Regions from separate parts of the Homo sapiens genome. Here all the other regions are linked to region 1. The links come from fine-mapping of genetic effects on gene expression. A gene starts in region 1. Each other region holds a variant in brackets. All regions are shown on one strand. Distances are from middle to middle. Region 1 holds the start of MAP2K3 (mitogen-activated protein kinase kinase 3). Region 2 overlaps MAP2K3 (mitogen-activated protein kinase kinase 3). Region 3 holds the start of NATD1 (N-acetyltransferase domain containing 1).

Evidence for each region. PIP is the estimated chance that this variant, and not a neighbour inherited with it, causes the effect.
Region 2: its variant is the best candidate, but not a certain one, in a credible set for the expression of MAP2K3 in whole blood (TOPMed, PIP 0.56).
Region 3: its variant is the best candidate, but not a certain one, in a credible set for the expression of MAP2K3 in whole blood (INTERVAL, PIP 0.56).

The regions. Positions count from the first base shown.
Region 1 is chr17:21,281,900-21,286,899 of GRCh38, forward strand. It overlaps MAP2K3 (mitogen-activated protein kinase kinase 3), which reads left to right and starts at 2,812. Exons shown (of 12, transcript NM_145109.3): 1 at 2,812-3,070. The coding sequence starts at 3,022. RefSeq lists enhancers at 1,884-2,384, 4,461-4,520 and a silencer at 2,271-2,800.
Region 2 is chr17:21,309,563-21,317,986 of GRCh38, forward strand. MAP2K3 (mitogen-activated protein kinase kinase 3) reads left to right here. Exons shown (of 12, transcript NM_145109.3): 10 at 2,580-2,719; 11 at 3,930-3,975; 12 at 4,585-5,670. The coding sequence ends at 4,668. Among named protein-coding and RNA genes, the nearest start is that of MAP2K3, 29 kb to the left of the region's middle. RefSeq lists enhancers at 1-100, 2,425-3,042, 7,451-7,960, 8,298-8,424. The variant G/A (reference allele first, on the strand shown) is at 3,285.
Region 3 is chr17:21,247,088-21,253,799 of GRCh38, forward strand. NATD1 (N-acetyltransferase domain containing 1) reads right to left here and starts at 6,323. Exons shown (of 3, transcript NM_152914.3): 1 at 6,072-6,323. The coding sequence starts at 6,177. RefSeq lists an enhancer at 1,953-2,454 and silencers at 5,945-6,064, 6,215-6,324. The variant G/A (reference allele first, on the strand shown) is at 4,521.

The DNA of each region.
Region 1 (5,000 bases):
CTCAGTTTCCTGCATCCACAGAGAGCAGGTTTGGGACTTTTCTCCTAGGAATCAAGGTAAGAGGCAGCCTCTTGTGACCCATGTCAAACATTTATTCTGCTTTCTGCATGGTCATGGAGTTCCCCAATCTGACTGTGCCACTTACAGACAGAAAGAAATCAAGAGATGTCACTATAGCAAGCCAGCAAGAGACCTTTGTCTCTGATGGTTCTTGATGGTACTTCTTGAGCTCCAGTGGTGCAGCTGTGCATCCCAGTCTGGCCCTCACCTGGTCCTCATGTGTGGCCCTTTTTACATCTCCAACCCATTGCCTCTGCTGTTCCTTTCCAGGGATGCTCTTCTTGCTTCTCTGCCTGGTAAGCTCCTACTGGTCCTTAAAAGTCCAGTCTCAAAATCACCTCCTCTGAGAGGCCTTCCTTGTCCCCACCCAGATGGAGATGGCTGCATCACCCAGGCACCCTCCTGGGACTTTTGCTCATGCATCTATTTATAGCACTCACATGGAGTTTTGTGATTCCTGAGCTGTTTATCGGGCTCCTGACTAATCCCCAAACTCCTTGTATGCGAGGGCCTGTCTGAGTCATCTGGCCGCCAAGGAGGTTGGCACGGGACTGGAGTCGCTTCACCCTGGTCTGTGGATGCTTTCCTCCTTCCTTTTTTCATTCCTCAAATATTTATCAGGCACCTACTATGTGCCTGGTTCTGGGCTATGCATTGGGAACACAGCAGGGAATGAGGCTCGGATGGTCTGGAGGGAGAGCTGTGTTAAAAACTGAGTCAGTAACAAAGACATCAGCAGCATAAGTGTTGTGCCTCAGTCTGGGGACCATGATGAGAAGGCCTCTTAGGGGTGTTCATTTAGGAAGCGGTCTGAGGGATGAGAGGGAACCAGCCCCAGGAGGCTTGAGTGGAAGAATGTTCTGGGCAGGAGCAGCAAGGGTGAAGCTGCTGCGGCAGGACCATCCCTGGCACATTTGAGGGGCAATACTGAGACTCTTGAACATCCCAAGAAGCAGAGTGCACAAGGCGGAGTGTGGCCTTGTGCAGAAGTCAAGGCTGTTGGCCAGTGCCTGAACCCAGAAAACTCGCTGGACTAGCCTTGCAGTTCTGGTAGAAAGGAAGCTGCTCCTGGATGCCCATTTTACAGACGGATAAGCACAGGTCACCAGGGATGATATGGCAAGGATGGAGGCAGCCCACAGTGTTTTCAAACTCACATTTCCTGGGCACCTAGTGAGTGCCAAGCCCTAGGCCAGGTGTTTCCACTCCTGAACTCATGAAACGCTTTCAGAGACCTTATTGTCCCCATGGGATAGGTAAACTGAGGCACAGAGCTGCTCAGTGACTTCTTTAAGGTCATCCAGCTAGTAAGTGGAGGAATTGGTATTGGAACCCATACCTATCTGAGCCCCAGACTCATGATTTTCCATCCCACTGCCTGGGAAGGGTGAACAGGAGACGCAGGAAGAGAATGGTGATGGCTGCAAGGCTTCCCTCTTATCTCCTGTGGCTCCCCACTCTGTGCATGGGGCCCTGCATCACCCCCACTTTACACCTGGGCAAGCAGAGGTCAGGCCCGGCCTCAAGCCTTTCTAGCAGGTGGTGGAATCTGCTTCCCTCACGTGAGGTCCCTGACAGGGTACACATGTCTGCCTGGAGGCCAGGGGCTGACCCCTTGACCTTTGCCTGGTACATTCTGCCTTCACTAGCCCTGGCTTTACATCCAGAGTCATCTGTTCCCAGCGCCAGATTGGTCAGCGGTTCCTGAAATCCCCCGAGGTTCCGTGTGGGAGCAGAGGGAGGACTGGCCCATCCAGCCATTATGCAGATGGGCAGACTGAGATCCTAGGAGGAGAGGAGAGAACGAAGGTCCAGGAGAGAGCCAGGATGGGGCCTCGGGGCTCGCGGGATAAAATGCACCGCATGCCGCCTCACTCCCTCTGAGACACGGTTTCCCCCTGTGTAGAACAGGGGCAGCAGTAACCAGCCACGAAAACTCCTCGTGCTGCCTCGTCACCGGGCATCGCTGAGCTCACCACCGACCCCGCGCCCTGGCCGGGCGCCTGGAGCGCGGGCGCGGGCGACGTTTGCTGGCGCCAGGCCCTCAGTGCGTGTTAGCGAGCAGCGCCGGGAGATAGCTGTCACCGCCGCCCGCTCACAGATGCGTAGACTGAGGCTCAGGTGTCACCACCTGACCAAGGCTAGTTCCGCTACAAAGCTGCCGACTCGGATCCGAACCCGGGTCCAATTTACAGAAAAGGAAACTGAGGCCCAGAGACACTAGGGAGCTTGCTAGGGTGAGGCAGCTGCAGGTTCAGAGAGCCAGGAGGCAGCCCAGCAGCGCACTTTTAACCCCCGCCCACTTCGGCAGGCCCAGCCGTGCCACCTTTAGGGATCTCGGGTTTTTTCCAGACGACGCACCCAGGAGAACGCGCCCGCGCATCGCACCCGCCGGGGCTGCGGGTCTGGGGGTGCCGGGCTGGGCCTGGGCGCCTGCAGGGAGCAGCGGGCTCAGTGGGTCCCGGGAGTGGGTGGGGCTTGCATGTTGACGGGCAGCGCGAGGGGCGCGGCTTTAGTCCAGGGGGCGGAGCCTGACCGGACCTGGGTTTTTCGGGCGGCTGGCGGACTTGACAGAGAGCGGGAGGGGCCCGGATCCTGGGCCTAAGGAGGGTGGGGCGTGTGCTTGACAGGCAGGGACAGGCCGGCGTCTGATAGGCAGAGGACGGGCCTTGGAAACGAAAGGACCAATCGGGCACGCAGGGGCGGGGCCTGAGTCAGCGCAGTTCGGCCGGGGTCTCCCCGGCGCTGCCCAGTCTGTCTCCGGCGCCGCCCGTCGCGGACTCGTCCTTGCTGCAGTCGCCGCCGCAGTCCTCGCCGCAGTCGCCGCCGCCGCCGCCGCCGCCGCCGCTGCTCCTCCGCCTGGCCTGGGCCGTCTGCCCGCAGCCATGAGCGTGCTCGGCCCCGGTGGAGCCCGCAGTCCTCTAGATTAGTCTCCACCGCCGTCCAGGACCCACTTGCAGCATGGAGTCGCCCGCCTCGAGCCAGCCCGCCAGCATGCCCCAGTCCAAAGGTAGGCGCTCCCGGCCGGGACCTCGGCCTGACCCCGCGCCTAATCTGGGGCCGGGCTGCAAACCCCGACCTTTCTTTGGTCCCACCCCATCCTGTTCTCGACCTGGCAGCGGCGTCCGGTCCCGGAACCCCTTCCTGTTCGGGGTCCCGGGACCAGCCCCCGCCTGGGCCCTCACCTGGACCCCCACGTTAGGCCTTGGGACTGCACTCAGGCCCGAGATCACCCAGGCTGGACCCAGACTAGGACTTTGTTCTGCTCACCCCATCCAAGTCAGGAGCCTCATTCTGACCTCATTTGGGCCTTATGGCTGCAGCCTGGACATGAACTCTCCCAGTCTTCTCCCTCAGCGGGACCCAGGTGAGATTCACACTGGCCTTCACCTGGGTCCTTGGGCAGCACCCAGTCCCATTTCTAGCTTCGGGTCCCAGGGCTGTATCCAGGTTGGGATTTAACTTGAGTCTCCATCTGGGCCCCAGAGTGCTCCTGTTGTTGCGGACCTCACTGTACCCCCTATGCGGGTGCTCTGGCTACACCCCAGCTCGGAACTCCCCGTCCTTCTCTCCCCCAGCTCTTCTTATCCTTATAGGCCCTATGTTGCCCCTTCCCTGGCTGGCCTGCACCCTGTCCTGCAGCCCTGGGCTCCCAGGAACCTTCCTTGTCCTCCCACCCCTCCCTAAGGTACAGCCCCCTCTCTACCGGCCTCTCTCTGTCTTGAGTTGCAAGCTTCTCCCTGCACTGGGGGTTCTCACCCCATCTTATTCTTGTCCTGGCTGCCTGGGATCTGGGCCAGCCGCCAGGCCAGGGTGCTGGCTGTGCAAGGGATTTGCTCTTCTCCAAGTAGCTGGCCTTCCTGGAAATTTTTGTGAGGTGGCAGCAGCAGGATTTGTCATGCGGAGGGGGAAGGATGAAACTCGGAGGGCAAAAGGGGAATTTTTTTTTTTTCAGGAAGAGGAAAGGATGTTTTTGGTGCGTCGGAGTTTCAGTAGGCTGGGTTGTGCGAGAGATTTCCAAACCGGACATAGCCGTAATGAATGGGCTGCCTCCTGGCTTTCTGAACCTGCAGCTGCTTCACCCCAGCAAGCTCCCTGGTGTCTCTGGGCCTCAGTTTCCTTTTCTGTAAATTGGAAGTAATCGCACCTGCTTCTGTGGACGTGGGAGTGTGGTGTGGGGTGGTGAATAGTAAAGAGCTCTGAGGCGTTCTCTCAGCGTAGCACCTGGCGCAGAGCCGGTGCTCACCAGGGTACACTGGCTGCACACATCTCGCTATTGTTTCCATTCTTCTTGCTGGAAAGGCCTCCACTGCTGGAAGTGCAGCCTCAGAGTGAGCAGGAGGAAGCACCTAGCAGCGGGCACCTAGTGGGCACTTCATCAGGGGTCAGCCGCTCTTCTGTTCTGGAGGGTGCAGGCCAATGGGAGCCCTATGTGGGCCTGGGGAGGGCATGGGCTCTTCCTGGCCCCTGCTGCTGGCTGCTATGGTGGCTGGAGCCGGGTGGGCTGGATAATTATGCCTTACATAAGTGGGAGGCCGGATCCCTGACCATTGCCCAACCACTGTGAGTAACTCGGGAGGCACTCGACGGGGGAGGTGTCTGGGGAGGGACTTGCACTGCACAGACCTCGTGGAGCTTGGGAACCAGGAAATCAGACACTTCTCCACTCTGGAGAGCTCGGGGAAGGGTAGGAAGCACTGTTTGTTTTGGAGGCTTTTTAGCTCTCCAGGCAGAGAATGCCTCATCAAAATAAAAGTTCCAGTTGCAGAGTTGTGAAAGGAGAGGGGTCATAGATGCAGTGAGAATGCTGTGAGAGGGCCAAAATGAACTTCTAGATGTGGACCCAGGTCCTAGATGAGGTTGAGGGGGCTGGATGGAGGGTCAGGGACCTCCCTCAGGCCCAGGGACTCTGTAGTCTCTTTGGGGTCTGGGGAAGGATG
Region 2 (8,424 bases), 29 kb after region 1:
AATAAAATACGTTTTATTAAAATTTAGAGAAATACAAACAATATGTAATGCTTCTCTTTTTTTGTTGTTGAAACAGAGCCTCGCTCTGTCACCCATGCTGGAGCGCGGTGGTGCGATCTCGGCTTACTGCAACCTCCGCCTCCCAGGTTCAAGTGATTCTCCTGCCTCAGGCTCCCGAGTAGCTGGGACTACAGGCGTGCGCCACCATGCCTGGCTAATTTTTGTATTTTTAGTAGAGATGGGGTTTCACCATATTGGCTAGGCAGGTCTCAAACTCGTGATCCACCCACCTTGGCCTTCCAAAGTGCTGGGATTACAGGTGTGAGCCACTGCGCCTGGCCTCGTAATGCTTCTTTTTAAAAAACTTTTTAAAAAAAATTTTGTAGCATTACATGTTGTTCATATTTGTCTCTCTCTCTCTGTTTTTTTTGTTTTTTGTTTTTTTTGTTGTTTTTTTTTTTAGATGTAGTTTTGCTCTTGGTGCCCAGGCTGCAGTGCAGTGGTGCAATCTCGGCTCACCACAACCTCTGCCTCCTAGGTTCAAGTGATTCTCCTGCCTCACTCAATCTCCCAAGTAGCTGGGATTACAGGTGTGCACCACCACATCCAGCTAATTTTGTGTTTTTAGTAGAGATGGGGTTTCTCCATGTTGGTCAGACTGGTCTCGAACCCCCGACCTCAAGTGATCTGCCTGCCTCGGCCTCCCAAAGTGCTTGGATTATAGGTGTGAGCCACCGCACCTGGCCAATTTCTCTAAATTATAATAGACTCCTGTATGTATCCCTTCCAAAGACTCCATAACCATCTGCCACCATTCAGTCACCCTGTCTGCTGATGTGGGTTGTTTCCCTTGTTCCTGCTGTTTTCCTTCCATTTCAAATTCTCAGCCATCCTGGGGGAGCGACTGATGAAACAGAGTCGGGAGAGTCCCCCTGGGTGGGGCTCTGGCCTCGGCCTCCCCCCATCCTGCAAGGGCCCCAGAGCTCTCTTGGCGTTGGCTTTTTCCCACTCACTGCACAAGCCTCAGGATGCCAGTGGGAATCACCCAGAACAGACAGGGGTCATGCCGGGGATGGCCCTTGGCCAGGAGCAAGTGCTGACTGGGTGCTGGCCTGTTAGTGTTGTCGCTGGGGAGTCACAGGGGTGCGACTACGGTCCTGGCTGGGTCTCCGCCCCCATGGTGGGGCCGGCCCCTGGCGCTGGACATTCAGGCTGTTTCTTAGTATTTCCTGGCAGAAAACACCATATGGCACATCTTCGTGTCTGGAGGCTATTTTTGTTGTTTTTCATTTTTTGAGCTCTTTAGAAAAAATAAAGGAGTACGAGGTTGAAGGTTTGGACACTTCTGCTTTTCTAATTATAACTCTCATGGCCGCTGGTCCTTCTCCTGTAGCTCGTATGGGGTACTTGCTCTACATATTGCAGTCAGTGAAAATTCTAAGAGAAAAGCCCCCCAAATCGGTACGGTTTTGTCCTGTGAACACGCATGCACACATGCACACACACGCAGTGGGCCCTGCCTGTGTGGGTGTGTTTGTCTGAGCTGGAAAGGGCCTCTAGCCTGATGGGAGGCACAGTCTCAGCACAGTCCTTAGGGTCTTGTCCGGGCTCCAGTTGCCAGTGCCAAGTGTTTGTGCTGAGGTCTCTTCCGTTCATCATGGTGATGACGGCCGGCAGTGAGGGCCCTTGTGCTGGAGCCTCGGAATTCTCTGTTCTTCCAGGCCGGGGCCAGGGCTGACATAACTTGTTTTTTCCATCCAGTCATCATGATTGGAGCCCAGAGTTGGTTGTAAGCTAGCTAGTCCGTCCCTTCCATGATGACTTCCTGCCAACCACAGGGCTGGGAGCTTGGAGCGAGGACAGAGACCCACCGGCCCGATGTCACCCACAGGAAATCTGGATCCAGCAGGGCACATGTGGCCACACAGGCCACTTGTCTAGGAGGGAAACTGCTGGGGCCCTGCAGAAGATGAGGCTGCAGGCTCACGGGTGCAGAGGCGAAGCAGCCTCATGGTCTCACACTCTGTCCGCGGCCTTGGAGACAGCTGTGTGTGTGTGTGTGTGTGTGTGTGTGTGTGTGTGTGTGTGTGTAGCATTTCCCATGTGCCTCCTCTGTGAAAACAGCCCAAATTAATGACAGCAGATGCTGAAGTCTGAGATGGTCAGATGTTAGGAAGGGGATTGGCTGTGACCACCTGGGACCTGCCCACCTGGCTCATGAGGCTACGGCCCAAAGTTGCCAGCTCCTCAGATTTTTCCAGAGCAGCTGGAACCTGCATTGTTTTGTAAAATCTTCAGAATTCAGGTTTTCTGAAAACCCTATGATGGTCCCACCAGTCCCGGTGTGGGCTGAATCTGCTTCCTGAGCTGGGTCCTGCTGGCTGGGTCGGAGGAGCTAAGAGCTGGCATCCCCGGCTTTCTCGCCTTTGTTCTGCTGGGATGTGGTAGGGAGATCAGCTGTGCAGCTTTGACGCCTGGCTCTGGTACCAGGATGGGTGGGAGCCCCCAACCCTCGCTCCTGGGTGCAGAGCGTGGTTGTATCTGGGGCCGGGGCCTCTGACCCCCTGTCCCCGCTGCAGATTGAGATGGCCATCCTGCGGTTCCCTTACGAGTCCTGGGGGACCCCGTTCCAGCAGCTGAAGCAGGTGGTGGAGGAGCCGTCCCCCCAGCTCCCAGCCGACCGTTTCTCCCCCGAGTTTGTGGACTTCACTGCTCAGTGGTGAGTCTTGGGTGCTGCTGAGCGCCTGCCACTGCCCCTCCCTGGCCAGATCCCTGCACCTTCCTGGGCCCTGTTCCTTTATTCCTTTGGCAAATAAACCCCCAGATGACTTGGCATCCAAATATGTAAGGCAGAAACAGCTGGAGCATGAGGAGCATTTGACAAAACGATGGTCTTGGTGGGAGATTTTAATACAGTTCTTCCAGAAGTGGACAAATCAGATAGACTGAAAAAGAGAACAAAGTATATGGAAAATTTGAACACAAAAAACAAGTTTGCTTTTATTGATATCTAGAACTTTGTACCAAATTAAAGAATGCCCCATAGGAGCCTTATAAAAATCATGTTTGAGAGGCTGGGCACGGTGGCTCACGCCTGTAATCCCAGCACTTTGGGAGGCCGAGGCAGGCGGATCCCGAGGTCAGGAGTTTGAGACCAGCCTGACCAACATGGTGAAACCCCGACTCTACTAAAAATAGGAAAATTAGCCGGGCGTGGTGGCGCATGCCTATAATCCCAGCTACTCAGGAGGCTGAAGCAGGAGAGTCGCTTGAACCCGGGAGCC[G/A]GAGGTTGCAGTGAGCCTGAGCCGAGATCATGCCACTGCACTCCAGCATGGGTGACAGAGTGAGACTGTCTCAAAAAAAAAAAAAAATCATGTTTGAGGTTACAGAAGGAATAAGGAAGAGGGCAACTTCTCTGAACTTAATTAAATAGAGCAAGAATTGGGTAAGGAAGAAGCGGCCGGGTGCGGTGGCTCACACCCATGGTCCCCGCACTTTTATTGTTGACCATAATCAGCAACAGAGGAGCCCAGCAGAGTCCCTGGGCAGTCTGACCCCTTTAATTGTGGACTAACTTCTCCCAGAACCCATGATAAGGAGTTTCTCTCCTGATTGAGGATACCAAGTGTGTGACTGTTAGGCAGAGCATTGCAGCCCCATTTTGGTGTTGATATGGAAATTCCTAGGTCACTATGCAGACAAGAAAACCAGGACCCCAGGAGCCAGAGAAACTTGCTGCAAGTCTCTAGTTTGCTCCTATGAATGCCCCTCCACCCTGGAAGAAGCCCTAGACAGTCCTGTCCCTTCTTCCCTGGGTGCACGTGTCCCCTGCTGCTAGGCCTGGGGCAATCCTGGGGTGGTTTGGCTGGCCCTTGGGGGCTGGGCTTCCTCCCTGCCAGCCTGGCCACAGCTGCACTATTCTCTCCTAGCCTGAGGAAGAACCCCGCAGAGCGTATGAGCTACCTGGAGCTGATGGTGAGTATGGGCGGGAGGTGCCTGCCCTGCTCTTCAGGGCTGGCTGGGGCTGGGTGGGGCTCTGGGGAGAGGGCTGCATCCTGCACACAGATGGGTAGCTCCTCTGGCTGGCCCTGTGTTCTCTCCTTTAGGTGCTCGGTCATTTGTTTGCTCCTGCATACCTGGCTCCCTCCTCCCTCCTTCCTGCATGCCAGGCCCTGGGAAGGGTACACAGGCAGTGTGTGACAGAATGGGGCAGAGGGGCCAAGGGTGGCATCAGGGAAGGCTTCATGGAGGAGGTACCATTTGAACTGAGCCTGGAAGGATGAATAAGGGTTATCTCCTGATGGAGAGGCTGTCCCAAGCAGAAGGTCCAGCATGGGCAGAGGCCTGACGTGTGGGGGGAAAGGGAGGTTAGTGTGGCTGGAGAGTGACCACAAGAGAGCTGAGGAGGAGCCACAGATGCCATCTGTGACAGTCATGGAGGGCCTCCTGGGGGTGGAGGTCCTAGAAGGATGAGTAGGATTTTGCCAGTCAGGAGAACACTTGGGCTGGAGCTGGTTGGGGAAGAGTGGCCACCTCTCCCTCCCGCTACCCCTCCATGGTGACTGTGCCTTCTGTCACCCCCAGGAGCACCCCTTCTTCACCTTGCACAAAACCAAGAAGACGGACATTGCTGCCTTCGTGAAGGAGATCCTGGGAGAAGACTCATAGGGGCTGGGCCTCGGACCCCACTCCGGCCCTCCAGAGCCCCACAGCCCCATCTGCGGGGGCAGTGCTCACCCACACCATAAGCTACTGCCATCCTGGCCCAGGGCATCTGGGAGGAACCGAGGGGGCTGCTCCCACCTGGCTCTGTGGCGAGCCATTTGTCCCAAGTGCCAAAGAAGCAGACCATTGGGGCTCCCAGCCAGGCCCTTGTCGGCCCCACCAGTGCCTCTCCCTGCTGCTCCTAGGACCCGTCTCCAGCTGCTGAGATCCTGGACTGAGGGGGCCTGGATGCCCCCTGTGGATGCTGCTGCCCCTGCACAGCAGGCTGCCAGTGCCTGGGTGGATGGGCCACCGCCTTGCCCAGCCTGGATGCCATCCAAGTTGTATATTTTTTTAATCTCTCGACTGAATGGACTTTGCACACTTTGGCCCAGGGTGGCCACACCTCTATCCCGGCTTTGGTGCGGGGTACACAAGAGGGGATGAGTTGTGTGAATACCCCAAGACTCCCATGAGGGAGATGCCATGAGCCGCCCAAGGCCTTCCCCTGGCACTGGCAAACAGGGCCTCTGCGGAGCACACTGGCTCACCCAGTCCTGCCCGCCACCGTTATCGGTGTCATTCACCTTTCGTGTTTTTTTTAATTTATCCTCTGTTGATTTTTTCTTTTGCTTTATGGGTTTGGCTTGTTTTTCTTGCATGGTTTGGAGCTGATCGCTTCTCCCCCACCCCCTAGGGTACCAGCAGGCAGAGCCTTGCCCTCTGCTCAGGCTGGGGTCCAGTGGGAGGGGCCCAAGATCTCTGCTCAGAGAAGTGCAGGGGGAGCCTTCCAGCTCACTCTCCCTGAGGACTGGCTTGACAGGGGCTATGGGTTTGCTTTGGTGTTGTTTTTAAAAAAAGAAAATATATTTTTTTGAAAAAACGACTGCCCATCCCGGGTCCTTTCCCTGATGGGTTGGGGCAGTTACCTGGTTGCTGTTTTAATTAAAAAAAAAAAAAAAAAAAGGACTAAAGGTTGTGTGAGATTGTGTATGACACCTGTGAGCCCCCCTCTTACTTGGGGAAGGTTGTGGCCCTTCAAGGGACCCTTGTCTCTGGGCCAGGGGCAGGGTGTCGTGCTCAGGGGAGGGAGGACTGCCAACCTACCAGGCCCTTCTACATCTGAGGACACAGAGGCCCCCAGAGGGCTGTGATGAGGTAACATCCTGTGATCATCCAGGCACCAGGCCCTGTACTGACACTGGACAGAGCAGCGAACACACAGGTCCAGTCTGCTGGTGGCGGCCACCCATCCCACTGTCCTGAAGTAGTGATGACAGCCAGGTCACAGAGCAGCGAGCACCCTGCACACTTTGCCTGGGCTGGACACGGTGACCTCATGGAGGTTACCTGACCTCCAGTTTACAGATGGGAACAACAGACCCAGAGAGCTGACATCACTTACCCAAAGCCACACAGCTTATAAGACAGAAAAACAGACTTGGGGACAGGTGGTGGGCTCCGGAGAAGGCTCCGAGGGGAGTAGGGGCAGCCTGATGAAGGCGCCCTGCAGTCTGGCCCTGTGACGCTGGCAGCATGGCTGGGGCAGCAGGGAATTTGCTCACGTAAGCCGGGTGTGCTCAGCTTCAGGTACCGTTAGGTTCGAAGTTCAGCTGATGGCCTGAAGGACTTGCATCCACCTTGGCTGTTCATCCGTCTCAGGTTCACCCCCTCATGGGGACCAGTCAGGACCCAGGGACTCCAAGAGCTCGGCACACCGTGCCCAGGGTACTCCTGAAGTCCCAGGACTGGCTCTTACCAGCTGGGAAGGAGTCGAATTCATCCCCAGGCCAGGAGGGTGGGTGTGACAGCTCAGGTCAGGTCAGGCATGAGGGGACTCCGCCCACTACAGCTCAAGGTCTGAGAGCAGGGTCTCTGTGGTCCTCTGAGGAAGCTTAGGGTGTGTTCCCAGGAGGAGGGTCCCCATGGGGTCTGTCTCTGCACTCCTCCTGTCCTCCAGCCCCAGTCTGGGACAGGTCTCTGCCCACTAACCCTTCCCTGGCACAGGGGCGAACAGTTCCTGGGAGCTGTTGTCTCCCTCTCTCCATCCTTCAATCATGAAGACTTGTTTTCACCCCAGGGCCTTTGCACTGGCTGTCCCCTCTGCGTAGAACACCCCCTCCCCCGTCTTCCTGTGGCTGGCTCCCCCCAACCCCATCCCGGTCTCCCATGTCACCTCCTCAGCGAGGTCTTCCAGGACCACTCTGGCTCAAACAGCCTCCGCCCACTAGGCCCAGCCAATCTAGCTTATTATCCTGGGTTATCCTGGCCGAGACCTGACTTGTCACTGTTGTGTCGTCAGCGCTGAGAATGCTGCCGACACCGAGGGAGCGCTCGGCTTCTGCTGAATGAACACATGAAAGAATGAATGAGGGAGGGAGGGAAGGGGGGAGGGAGGGAATGAATCCCTTGCCGGGGCGCGGCCCCAGGCTCTGTCTCCTGTAGCCGCCAGGGGGCGGTAGAGCTCGGCTTCAACCGCGTGTCCTGGAGCCCCGCCCGGCCCCGAGCGCCCGTCCGCGTCCTCGTGCGTCCTCGGCGCAGCTGGAGGCCGCGGGCTTGCCACGCGTCAGCCCAGTTCTCGGCCTCTGCGGCTGTCCTGCCCGTGTGCACCCCCTGGCCCGGCCCTCGGGGCTTCCGGGGACTCTGCAGCCTGCAGACAGCAGCAGACCCAACGCCTAGAGATTTACCGTGCGCGCCCCTGAAGTTACCCAGCGCCCCGCAGGCCACCGCGCCCCTCGCGGCTCGCAGGCCTGGCTGGACGCCGCAGGCCTGGCTGGATGCCGCAGCCCTTCACAGAGAGCAGGCTCCTCCGCGCACGACTGCAGCCCCAGTCGTTTGCAGTTCCCTTGCCATTTATGGGACCCTTTGGCTTTTACAGAGCGTGTCCAGCCATCAGAGTGCGGAAGCCAGTGCGCAGGTCACTAACATTTACAAAGCACAGGCCCTTGACAGTTTATACTACCCGTGGAGGTCTCAAGCGGCAGGGCCCCTCTCCCCTGTTCCCTGTCCCTGAGGTGGGGGAATGGGGATGGGGAGCGGCCGCCCCCCCCTCCCCCGAGGCCGGACGCCCGCATTTCCTGTCAGGCAGCAGGGTCCGGGCAGGCGCCTCTTCCAGGCCCGGGATTAATGAGTCTCTGGACTGGGAGATGGCAGAGGCATGTAGACTTTGTTCAATTACAGCCGTGAGAGCCTCCTCATCAGGCAGCATTAAAACTGCAGCAGACAGGCCGGGCGTGTTGGCTCACGCCTGTAATCCCAGCACTTTGGGAGGCTGAGGTAGGTGGATCACCTGAGGTCGGGAGTTCGAGACCAGCCTGGCCAAGATGGTGAAACTGCGTCTCTACTTAAAAAAATACAAAAATTAGACGGGCATGGTGGCGCACATCTGTAATCCAAGCTATCTGGGAGGCTGAGGCAAGAGAATCGCTTGAACCTGGGAGGCAGAGGTTGCAGTGAGCTGAGATCGAGGTGCTACACTCCAGCCTGGGGGGCAGAGTAACACTCCGTCTCAAAAAAAAAAAAAAAAAGAAAAAAGAAAAAAATGCAGCAGACAGGCCTGCTCAGGAGCAGGGAGGCTGCGGAGGGAGGATTTGGCGAATTCCCTTCTAGAGGCCAGGGCGTGAAGCCTCTCCTCCAGATCCCTGCTGCAGCTACCGTCTTCGGTGGGGGCCTCCTCATGGTCCACAGTGCCCCACCCCGGGCGCCCACCCCTGCCTCCCC
Region 3 (6,712 bases), 34 kb before region 1:
CACCCTGCGTCAGTGTTTCTGGAGTAGCCACCTGGGCCATGGATGGACCTGACCCTGGGAGTCCTCAGAACTTCTCTGCCTCCCATTGACCCTCAGTGATCGCACAGCTCAGCCACTACCATATTCCAGGCACCCAGCTCGGCGTAGACACCCAAGAAATGTTTGTCCAACTAAAACAACTGCTTTCTGTCTTTGCCAGACACACACTAGGGCCTTGTGGCAGACCTGTGGACAACTGGCTGGACCAGCATGCTGGCCTTCCCACAGCCAGGCCTGCACCTCAGGCTGTGGCTCCCAGGAGACAGCAGGACAGAAGCGGTGGTGGCCCAAGCGTGTGCAGCCCCAGCACAGGGCAGGCTCGTGCTCTGCTCTCTCCACACAACGATCCTCACAACCATCCCACTAAACACGATTCTCACAGCCCCATGTACAGATGGGGAAACCGAGGCCCAGGAGGGAGGAAGGTGGTGGTGATCATCCCGGGACAGGTCAGTTCTCTGGGGCAGAGAGGTGTCGGGACTGGGGTAAGATCACCTGGCAGAGTTGAGACTGGAACTGAGGGCCCTGCCCTGCCCTAAGCTTGCTCCTGTGGCTCCCAAGTGACAAGTCCTGCCCCCCTGTGCTAGTCTGAGGTCTGGAGCTCTCAAGGCAGCTCTTAGAGCCTAGCCCAGATAAGGGCCTATGGCCTGGACCAGGCCTAGAGGCTATGCCTGTGTCACTGTGAGCCGAGACAGCAGGATCCACAGTGCCCAGAAGTGAAAGCGTGGCTGACAGTGCTACCCTGGTGTCCTGCTGTCCCGTCATGGGTGCTGCGGGCAGTCAGGGGAGGCCTCTGGGCAGGTGACGTTTGGGCTCACCTGGAATGAGAGTCACGGAGGTGTATGGAGTTGACTGGGGATAGGGCTGAGTCAAAGGAGGGTCTTCAGGCTGAAAGGGGAACAGAGGGCATCTGGGGTGGCCACGGTGGTGGTGGGGCTGTATGTGAGGAAAAGACCGAGTTTAAATGGACACCCTACATGGGCCAGACCACATGGCACTGGGCCAGCGAGGAGCCAGGCTCCTGGGCAGCAACCTCGGAGCATCTGGCCAGGACCTGAACCCCACCTTGGAGGGCCTTCAAAGGCCACCCAGTCACAAGTGTTACACCCATGACACAGGCCACAAATGCAATACCGGTCCTCACGCTCAACTCCTTGTCCTGCCCCAAACCTGCCTGGACATCCCAGGAAAATGCCCAAGTCCCCAAAGCTTGACCAAGGTCCTTGGCTCCTCCTCACCTTTTCTCATCTGACCTGACCCTCGGCAGGACCGTGGACATGGCTTTCTAAACATGCCTGGGGTCCAGCTGCCTCTCTGGCCTCCCTGCCTTGGTGGCTGCTCCCCTGCCTGTCACCTTTCTGCCCAGGGCCTCCGGGGACCCTTCCTTCTCATTTCAGGTGAGCCCAAAGGTCACGTGCCCAGAAGCCTCCCCTGACCACCCGCAGCCCCCATGATGGGACAGCAGGACACCAGGGTAGCACTGTCAGCCACGCTTTCACTTCTGGGCACTGTGGATCCTGCTGTCTCGGCTCACAGTGACATAGGCATAGCCTCTGGGCCTGGCCCAGGCCCTTATCTGGGCAGCTCTAAGAGCTGCCTTGAGAACTCCAGACCTCAGACTAGCACAGGGGGGCAAGACTTGTCACTTGGGAGCCACAGGAGCAAGCCTAGGGCAGGGCAGGGCCCTCAGTTCCAGTCTCAACTCTGCCAGGTGATCTTATGCCAGTCCTGACACCCCTCTGCCCCAGAGACCTCACCTGTCCCTGGATGATCACTACCACCCTCCTCCCTCCTGGGCCTGAGAACCCCACCAGCATCACGTGACTGGTTTGGGAAAAGTTAAAGCTACACTGCTCGTGGGGGACCCGTCCCTGGGTCTCTGCACCCCCATGCTCTCTCTGCCCCTCCTGAACCTCGGGACCAAAGGGGGCCAGGAAATTGTCAGGGGAGGCGATCACAGAGAAAGACCAAAGCTTGCAGACAGGGGACAGGGGCAGGACCTCTGGGAGATGTGGAGTCTGCAGAAGACATTGACCTCTGCTTTCTCCACTCGGCCCACACTGACCCCGCAAGGAGAGCTGGCAGATCAAAACGCGAATATACAGATGAGGAGACTGAGGTAGACGGAGGCAGAGCCCAGGCGCCAGAGCTGTGGCACGGGACAAGGACAAGCAGACACCCTGGCCGGCTTTTCTGGCACCTCTGTAAGTAGAGCCTGGATCAGGGAGGTGCCACATGTTGGTGGTTCATTGGTAGATTAGGCAGAGGGAGCTGTGAGCCTGGAGAAGCTCAACCATACGTCCCTCCCCTCCCCAGAGGACCCTGGTCCAGCCCAGCCCAACACAGCCAGCGGCCTCATATTGGGGCTGTGATCTGAGCACCTCCCAAAGCCTGGGGCTGTGATCTTAGCTCCACTGCATCCAGGGGTGCTGAGGGAGGCCAGGGGCAGCAGCTGACTCTCTGGGGCCTCAGTCTTCCTGGCTGCAAAATGGGGGTTAGGGAGGACGCAGAAAGTTCCAGGGTTCTGCACCCCTCAAGTGTTCCTTTCCTTGCAGCAAGTGGGACACTCAGCCCTGCCTGTGAGGGAAAGGGAAGGCTAAGGAAGGGGCTGCCCAGGAGGTGGGGGTCTCTTCCAGCTGCCTCCAACCTTCAGAAACCGTCCTCAGATGGAGGCCGGGGGCTTGATTCTGGCTTAGCTGCCTACAGGCTGTGCGCCTTGGTTTCCCCATCTATAAAGTAATGACAAGCTTGCATTTCAGAACCAGGATATGGCATCAGACAAGCCTGAGCTCAAGCCTTCCCTCATCACCCACAAGCAAGTCACAGCCATGCTTCCTTCCACATCTGTCCAGGATCTAGACGTTTCTCCCACGCCTGTTTGCAGTGCCTGGACTAGTAAAGTAACCACCTCCCTGCTCTGTCCTGGTCCCCACAGTTTGCTCCCCTTAGAGCAGCAGCTAGAGGGAGCTGGGGCATCCCATCTGTCTTCTGCTCAGGACCCTCCTGGGAGCCTCAGAGTCAAAGCCGAGCCCATAGGACAACGGCTTCCAGGCCCTGCACCACCTGCTCCCCATGACCTCTTGACCCATCCTGCACACACAAGGCATCGCAGGCACTGCAGAGCCTTTGCTCTTGCTATTCCCTCCACTTGGAACACTCTTCCCTGTTGCAGCTCTGTTTCTTGCCTCCTTCAGGTCTTCACTTAAATGCCACCCTCCAGGGAGGGGCCTTCCTAGACACATGATTGTAAATAGCAGCCCTGCCCAACACAGCCTCCCCTCTGCCCCCTGCACCTCTCATGAAAGCCCTTGTTTTCCAGGATACTTTAAAACTGACTCTATTTCTTGTCCATTTCCCTCTCTAAACTGTCAGCCCCAGGAGACCCCGACACCTAAAAGAGTGCTTGGTACATGGTAGGTGCTCAACAAATACTTGCGGGGTGAATCACAGCTCTTCCACCTCTGTGGTGCAAGACTTTGGGCAAGTCATTTCACTTCCCCATGCCTCAGTCTCCCCATCTGTATATGGGAAATGCAGTTTCCCCTCTCCCTGTGGTGTGTGGCTATGAAATAAAGTGACTCCAGGTGCCCAGGGCCTCCTAGAACACTGTAAATGCTTAATAAACAAAGGTGCTCAAACGTTTTCCCTCACTCAGAACCAGAGCTCGCAGGAAGAGAATCAGCCTAGCTGTGCTATGTGGACAGCCTAGGAACACTTCTGCACCAGGAGCCTGGGGCTACCTGACCCCTCAGCCTCAGTGTTTATATCTCTCAGTGGGCACAACAGCACCAGCCTCCAGGCTTGCCTTACAGGTCGGGAATGACACCACAGCCTGTTGTCCTCCTCAGCTCAGGGAGGCCTGGGCTCAGACTCAGACGACCCCTCTCTGGTCCCAAGACACACACCCAAACCCAGTGGGGCCTGGAAGCCCAGAAGAGCCCCACCCTGTGCTGCACAGCCACTCCCTTGGGGGCCTCTGGCCTCTCTCTTCTTTCTCCCCTGGGCTTGGCTGGGGAGATGCCCAGCCACATCTGTGGTCAGCTATCTGGGCAGTGAATTCCAGAAGGGGGTAAGTTTAGAAATACGGCTGGGCATGTCCAGCCCTGACCACGGCCAGCTCTGGAGGGCTGTCCTTTGGCTGTACCCACTTGGAAGAGAAAGAAAAAGAAAAAAAAAAAAAAAAAACAAACGTATCCCCTCTTCTTTCTGTCTCTGAGTATAATGGCCCTCCCGAGCCCACAAGGGAACCAGAGGCCGCTCTGGAACCTCAGAAGAGAGGATTTGAAAGCCATGAGGCCTCTCTCCCAGAGTCGCCAGGGCCCCGAGTGTCCTGGCCAGCTGAGCCCTGCCAGCACCACAGCAGTAGCAGGACTTGCCTCTGCCTGGTGGTGTAGGGTTGGTTGGGCCAATGGTGAAGTTCTGGGTGATGCTGGGCAATCACTTCCTAAGGTCCCTAGCCTCAGTTTCCTCATCTGTAACAC[G/A]GGGTGGTATGTCACAACATTGTCAGGGTATTGTGACAGTCCCATCCACGAAGCTGTAGTGGGGCCTGGCTCGACACTCGGCACATTCCAAATGGCATCGGAGATCTGGCAGAGGCCCCTCCTGGCTGAAGCCAAATGTGGGTCGCAGGAGCCCCACCGTTCAGGGAGTCAGACCAGTCAGGACGCCATCCCAGCTCTGCCCAACTCTCAGCCTGACCTCTCGCAAGCCTTTCCCTTTCCTGGCCCTCCACCTTCCCTTCTTGAAAATGGGCACAGTGGCCCCTAAGGACCGGTCCAGCTTGGACATTCCCACTGGGGCGAGGTGGGCCACAGGGAGTTCATAGCCCTTGTTTTTGTAGTTCTATTTCCTACCTGTGGGACCTCCTGAGGGGGGATGGGCTAATCAAAACTTCTCTACACTGGCAGGGCGTGGTGGCTCACTCCTGTAATCCCAGCACTTTGGGAGGCCATGGCAGGTGGATCACCTGAGGTCAGGAGTTCAAGACCAGCCTGGCCAACATGGTGAAAGCCTGTCTCTAATACAAAAATTAGCTGGGCATGGTGGTGGGTGCCTGTAATCCCACCTACTCCTGAGGCTGAGGCAGGAGAATCACTTGAACCCAGGAGGCAGAGGTTGCAGTGAGCCGAGATTGTGTCACAGGAACATTGTGTCGCCTGGGCGACAGAGTGAGACTCCATCTCAAAAAACAAAAACTTCTCTACACTAAGGGAGAACTTGCCCTTGCTTTCTGGCTTCACGAATCACGATCGGGCCACGTTTACCAGCACTTACTAATCCCCCATGAGCTGGTCTGATCCTTTACATTTGTTACAGTCTTTCATCCTTACAACTAGCCAATGGGGTGTGCACTGGTATTATTCCCATTGCAGAGAGGGAGAAACTAAGGCACACAGAAGTGAGGCAAATGGCCAGTCCCAGAGCCACTGAAGTCTTGATAGTGATAGCCATCCCCCCGCCCCTCACTCCCCCCAGGGGACCACAAGCCCCTTTCGCGGTCAGCCCCAGGTCCGCAGGCCTCCCCCGTGTAGAAAGACTAAGATTCCCAGGGGCAGCAGGAAGCCATATACCACCCGCAGAAGGGGACAGGTCACGGCTGACCAACTTTCCAGGATCTCAAACAGGAGCCTTCAGTGGGTGCCCAACAGTCGTGAACAAGTGGGCCTGAGCAGGTGCGGGTCCCCTGCGGCTGAGACAGGGGACCCGCGCTGCCCCAGCTCCTGCCTCTGCCTTTCCAGGGGCCCCTGTCCGCCCTGGCCCCTGCTCTCCCGGGAAGTCTGCCCCCGCCCAGCCCGTTCCACTTCCCGGAGCGCCGGCCGCGCCCCCACCTGGCCCCGAGCACAACCCGGCCCGCGCCCGGAGCTCCGGCCGCCCGGGACCACCCCGCGGCGCGCGCTTGCAACAGCCTTCCCGGGCGGCGGGCCGGAGCCGGGCCGCGGGCGCGCGGGGGACAGGCACCCAGCAAGGGGGCGGCCCCGGCGGGCCCCGCTCGCTCGCAGACAAAAGGTCGGGGCGGGCCGGGGCCGCCTTACCGTTGAGCCGGACAGTGAACTGGCGGCGCCGGCGGTCGTGCTCCACGCGGATGGGGCAGCCCTGCTCCAGCGCGCCCAGCGGCACGGCGGCAGCCGAGTGCGCCATCTGCGCGCGGGGCTGCGGCGCGGCGCCGGCGGGGGCCGGGGCGCGCGGGGAAAGGTCAGGCGCGCGGCGGGGCTGGAGCGCGGGCGCAGGCGGCAGGCGGTGGGGTAGTTACGGCCTGGGAGACCGCAGGCGGCGGCGCTGAAAGTGACACTCGGCGGCGGCGGCAGCAACAAAAAGGGTGGGGGGGGGGCCAGGAAATCAGCTGTGAGGTCACGTGCGGCGCGCAGCCAGTGGACGCGCGGCCTTTTTGTTTTGATACATTCCAGTCACCTCTTAAAGGGGCCGCGCCGGCCGCGTTCCTCTCGCAGCCCCAAACAAAACAACACGGGCCGCCGCCGCGCCGCGCCGGCTACTTTTCCGTCTTGCGTTTGTCCCACGTGCAACTTTGGGACCCCCGCAAGGAGCCTTCTAAAAAAGACGTAACAATCTTTTGTATGGACATTCTAATCGTCCCCAAGGCAGCCACCATTTATTAAGCACTTGCTGTGTGCACGGCCTGTGTATAGCAAAGCCCTGGCGCACAGGGCGCTCAGTA